Linked DNA regions of Homo sapiens: region 1 is linked to region 2. Evidence: fine-mapped expression QTL. Tissue or cell type: lung. Region 2 holds a variant in brackets; the other region holds the start of a gene. All regions are shown on one strand. Distances are between the middles of the regions.

Region 1 (2,681 bases), 27 kb before region 2:
GGATCCTCCCACTTCAGCCTCCCAAAGTGTTGGGATTTACAGGTGTCAGCCCAGCCTTTGATTTTTACCTAGAGGTTGTATTTATTTGGATGTCACTGATTGAGAGCACTGAGGGGGCCTCCGAGCCACCTCTCCAGGCTATGTAGATCTAGATCAAGCTTGTCCAACCCATGGCCTGAGGCCCGCATGCAGCACAGGACAGCTTTGAATGCGGCACAACACAAATTTGTAAACTTTCTTAAAACATTATGAGATTTTTTTGTGATTTTTTTTTTCTCATCAGCTATTGTTACTGTTAGTGTATTTTATGTGTAGCCCAAGACAACAATGCAGTCCAGGGAAGCCAAAAGATTGGACACCCCTGATCTAGACCTTACCCAAGGGATTTAACCTCCATGGGCCTCAGTTGTCTCCTCTGTGAAATGGGAATGTCATAATTGCACCCAAGTGAAAATTAAATGAGAAAACGCTTTCAAAGCACTTAGCACTTCACCACTTATAGGAAATGACAATTGCCATTAACTGCTATTAATATACCAGAAACTGTTACTCACTACTTTTGAGAAATATTCATTAAGTACCTAGTTGGTACCAATGTTTTGTCTACACTGACCGGTTTTTCAAACTGTGGATCCCTTAGGAAATAAGTTTATGGTGTGTATTTTGCTGATGAGGAAACGGGGCCTCAGAGCAAGAGGCGCACACAGGCAGGAGTTGGCCCAGGTGGGATTCAAACCCAGGTCCCTGCTAGTACCTCTATCCTGGCTGTGGCACTGTACCTTTGAGTCTCAGCTTCCGCTCCTACCACCGGCCTTCAGAGCGGCTCAGGTTGGAGGGCCTGAAGTCCTGGGTTCCTGGGAAGAGGGGCCTGGGGTCCCCGGACTTCTACCTCTGTGAGATAGCGGGGCGGAGAACTGGGCCCCCGGACCCTGGAGAAGCAGCACGTCGTGATCCTAGATCTCTGGGTCCCCAGTGTGGAAACCCACTGGGTCTCTGCTGCCTTAGTCCCGGGCAATCTCCCTGCTTCCTTGCTGAGGCCAAGTGATTTCGGCTTTCTTGCCGCGGGTTCGGAGTGGGGGAAGGAGGGGGTGCAGGGGGAGGAGCCGCGGACCTGCGACAGTGGCGAGGGGAGGAGCCGAGCCGGCACCGCGGCTGGCGCGCGGGGCTGCGGCGGCGGCGGCGGCGGCAGCGGCGGCAGCGGCGGCTCCGGGTGAGTCCGCTCCTCCCCCTCCTCCTGCCACAGCCCCAGCCCCAGTCAAATCCCTGGGGTCGGCCCCGGCGCATGGGGGCGGGGTAGATGCAGAGGCGCGTGGATCTCGGGCCGGGGAGTGGGAGCGCTGCAGCGCTCTCTGGCCACCCCGGGGGAGGGGCACGTGGCCCTGGAAGGGGGTCCCGAAACACCTGGGTGTATCCCACCCCTCGCCCACCGATCCCCAGCGCGGGGGGATCGTTTCCTCATTCCGTGGCCCCTAAGGACTTAGGGCTCCGTGGCTTTTCGAAGTCCCGGACATCGTTCCCCTCCCCTGAAGCGTCTTGGGACCCCAGCATCTTAACCCCCCAAAACCTTAAAAAAAAAAAAAAAATCCCATCCTCTCTGCAGCCCGGAGGCATTAAGGACTTCAACTCCCAGCAGATCCTGCAGCGCCGGGTCTATGAAGCCGCAGCAGCGCGAGCGCGAGACCTGCCGGGAATTGTAGTCTCTAAGCCCTCAACGGGAGCTGGGGGCCCGGAGGTGGGAGGGGGTGGCCGGGCTCCCAGTGGGTCGCCTGGGGTCGGGCAGCTGGCTCGAGTAGGGCAAGATGTGACTGTTAAGCTGAGCTTTTTCTCCCGGCCTCAGCCCCTAGATCAGACATTCTCTCTCATTACCCGGCGCGTGGGAACGGGTCCACAGCCCCTTGTCCGCCCTAGAACCCCCATGGGCTGCCGCCCGCCGCCGCCTCGGCTGCCACCCAGGACACGGCAGAGATAAGCGCAGGTGAGTGTGGCCATGCCTGTCTTGGAGTCCTGGCCTTCTGCAGCACCCCCACGACACCTGTCCATCTGTGAGCCCTGGTCTGTCTGTTCCTAATTCCCCTGCATCCCCTTCAACCCATCTTGATGCCTGGCTCCGAGCCATGTGTCACTAATTCCCCCTCTCCCCACATCCACCTCTCCTTCCTAGCCTCCTCTCATTTATGTGCTCATTGAACCTTCCCTTATGAACCCATGTCTGTCTGCCCAGCCCTCCTGTCTCCTTTTGTCTATCTGCGATCTCTAGCCATCATCTGCTGTCCTTGCCCACCCATCCATCCTCCCGTTCGACCGTTTCTCTTTCAAAGATATTTCTGCCCACACTCCTGCCTGCCCCTCTTCACCGTCTCTCGTCCTCTCGTCTCTCAAGCCCCCGTGAATTAATTACATCTCGGTTCATTCCTTGTCACTGTCCATCCCAAGTCTCAATCCTTGACTTTCCTTCTGCCTGCCTGTTCACCTCTCCATCTCTTCGGAGCCTCAGTCTGCCCTTCACATTATCTCTGTCTCCCCTCCCTGTATCTCTCCCTCCCTCAACTTGGTCCCCATCTCTGCATCTCCACCTCTCCACCCCCAGCTCCCACCATACCTATCCACCTCCAATCTCTCTACCCACATCCATCCTTCTCTCCTGGCCCTCCCCGCGTCTACCCCAGTCTGGCCTCCTTGGT
Region 2 (2,681 bases):
GCAGTGGTGCAATCTTGGCTCACTACAATGTCCGCCTCCCAGGTACAAGTGATTCTCCTGCCTCCAGTGTAGCTGGTATGACAGGTGCCCGCCACCACACCTGGCTAATTTTTTGTATTTTTAGTAGAGACAGGGTTTCACCGTGTTAGCCAGGCTGGTCTCGAACGCCTGACCTAAAGTGATCCACGAGGCTGGGTAATTTATAAAGAGAAAAAGGTGTATTTGGCTTATGATTCTTCTGGCTGGAAGATTGGGCATACAGAGAAAGTCTTGAGCTGCTTCTACTCTTGGTGGAAGGAGAAAGAAAGCAGGGATCACGTGACAATAGAGGAAGCAAGAGAGGCAAGTGTCAGCCTCTCTTTAACAACCAACTCTAATGGGAACTAATGGAGGAAGAACTCACTCACCCACACTCCCAGGGAGGGCATTAATCTATTTGTGAGGGGTCCACCCCTGTGACCCAAACACCTCTCATTAGGACCCCATCTCCAACATTGGGGATCAAATTTCAACAACGAAATTTAGAAGGCAGCCTGGCCAACACGGGAAAACCCCGTCTCTCCTAAAAATACAAAAATTAGCCGGGCGTGGCATGTGCCTGTAATCCCAGCTACTCAGGAGGCGGAGGCAGAAGGGTCACTTGAACCCAGGAGGTGGAGGTTGCACTGAGCCAAGATTGTGCAACTGCACTCCAGCCTGGGTGACAAAGCAAAACTCTGTCTCAAAAAAAAAAAAAAAAAAAATTGGATGGGACATACATCCAAACTACTGCACATCATAACCAAGGTCATGAAGCACTCAGATTGGCCAGGTCTGACTCTTGTTCTCACTCTGAAATCCCTGGCAAGATCCAGTTAAAAAATGTATATTTTGCATGGGGAGGAGTGATAGGAAAATCAGATGTTTAAGAGAACAAAAAGAGAAGCTATAGATTGTGAGAAAATCTTTTCAAAACACCTTTCAGACAAAAAGCTGGTATCCAGGCCAGGTGTGGTGGCTCACATCTGTAATCCCAGCATTTTGAGAGGCCGAGGTGGGCGGATCACCTGAGGTCAGGAGTTTGAGACCAGCCTGGCCAACGTGGCAAAATGCTGTCTCTACTAAAAATACAAAAATTAGCCAGTCATGGTGGTGGGCGCCTGTAATCCCAGCTACTCGGGAGTCTGAAGCAAGAGAATCACTTGAACCTGGGAGGCGGAGGTGGCAGTGAGCTGAGATTGCGCCATTGCACTCCAGCCTGGGCAACAGAGCAAGACTTTGTCTGAAAAAAAAAAAAAGAAAGAAAGAAAAAGAAAAAAGAAAGCTGGTATACAAAGAACTAAAACTCAACAATAGGAAAACAAACAACCCAATTTAAAAATAGGGAACAGATCTGAACAGACACTTCAACAAAGAAGATATGCAGATGGCAAATAAGTAAATAAAAAGATAGTTGGCCAGGTGTGGTGGCTCCCGCTTATAATCCCAACACTTTGGGAGGCTGGGGCAGGAGGATCATTTGAGGCCAAGAGTTTCAGACCAACCTAGGCAACACACTGAGACGCCATCTCTACAAAAAATAAAAATAAAAAGGTCAGATGTGGTGGCT[C/G]ACACCTGCAATCCCAGCACTTTGGGAGGCCACAGCTGGTAATTCCCTTGAGCTCAGGAGGTCAAGACCAGCCAGGCAACGTGGTGAAACCCCATCTCTACGAAAAATACAAAAAACTAGCCAGGTGTGGTGTTGCACACCTGTGGTCTCAGCTACTTGGAAAGGTGAGGTCGGAGGATCACTTGAGTCTAGGAGGCAGAGGTTGCAGTCAGCAGAGATTCCAGTGCCACTGCATTCCAGCCTGGATGACAGAGCGAGACCCTGTTTCTAAATAAATAAATAAATAAAATAATAAAAATAGAAATAAAAAAATAGCCAGGTGTGACAGCACACAACTGTAGTCCCAGCTACTGGGGAGGCTGAGAAGGAGGATCTAAGAGTTGGAGGCGGCAGTGAGCTATGATTGCACTGCTGTACTCCAGCCTGGGCAACAGAGACCCTGTTTCTTAAAATAAATAAATAAACAAACAAACAAATAAATAAAAGGTACTTGGGCCGGGCGTGGTGGCTCACACCTGTAATCCCAGCACTTTGGGAGGCCAAGGTGGGCAGATCACCTGAGGCGAGGCATTCGAGACCAGCCTGATCGACATGGAGAAACCCCATGTCTACTAAAAATACAAAATTAGCCAGGCGTAGTGGCGCATGCCTGTAATCCCAGCTACTTGGGAGGCTGAGACAGGAGAATCACTTGAACCTGGGAGGCAGAAGTTGCAGTGAGCCGAGATCATGCCATTGCACTTCAGCCTCGGCGACAGAGCAAGACTCCGTCTCCAAAAAAAAGCGGGGCTCAACATCAAATGTCATTAGGAAATTGCAAATTACAGCAACGATGACATACGACAACCACCTATTAGAATGGTGAAAATCCAAAACATGAATAACACCAAGTGCTGATGAGGATGAGGAACGTCAGGAACTCTTATTCATCTCTGGCAGTAATGCAAAATGGTGCAGCCACTTTAGAAGACAATTTGGCACTTCCTTACAAAACTAAACACTCTTACCATATATTGCAGCACTCATGTTCCTTGGTATTTACTCAAATGAGCTCAAAACTTACATCCACACAAAAACCTGAAGACAAATATTC

The links. PIP is the estimated chance that this variant, and not a neighbour inherited with it, causes the effect.
Region 1: SYT3 starts here. The variant in region 2 is fine-mapped to the expression of SYT3 in lung (GTEx, PIP above 0.99).

What each region holds. Positions count from the first base shown.
Region 1 is chr19:50,638,319-50,640,999 of GRCh38, reverse strand. It overlaps SYT3 (synaptotagmin 3), which reads left to right and starts at 1,119. Exons shown (of 11, transcript NM_001160329.2): 1 at 1,119-1,210; 2 at 1,838-1,975. RefSeq lists an enhancer at 1,514-1,808.
Region 2 is chr19:50,610,826-50,613,506 of GRCh38, reverse strand. No RefSeq gene overlaps it. Among named protein-coding and RNA genes, the nearest start is that of SNAR-F, 7.2 kb to the right of the region's middle. The variant C/G (reference allele first, on the strand shown) is at 1,589.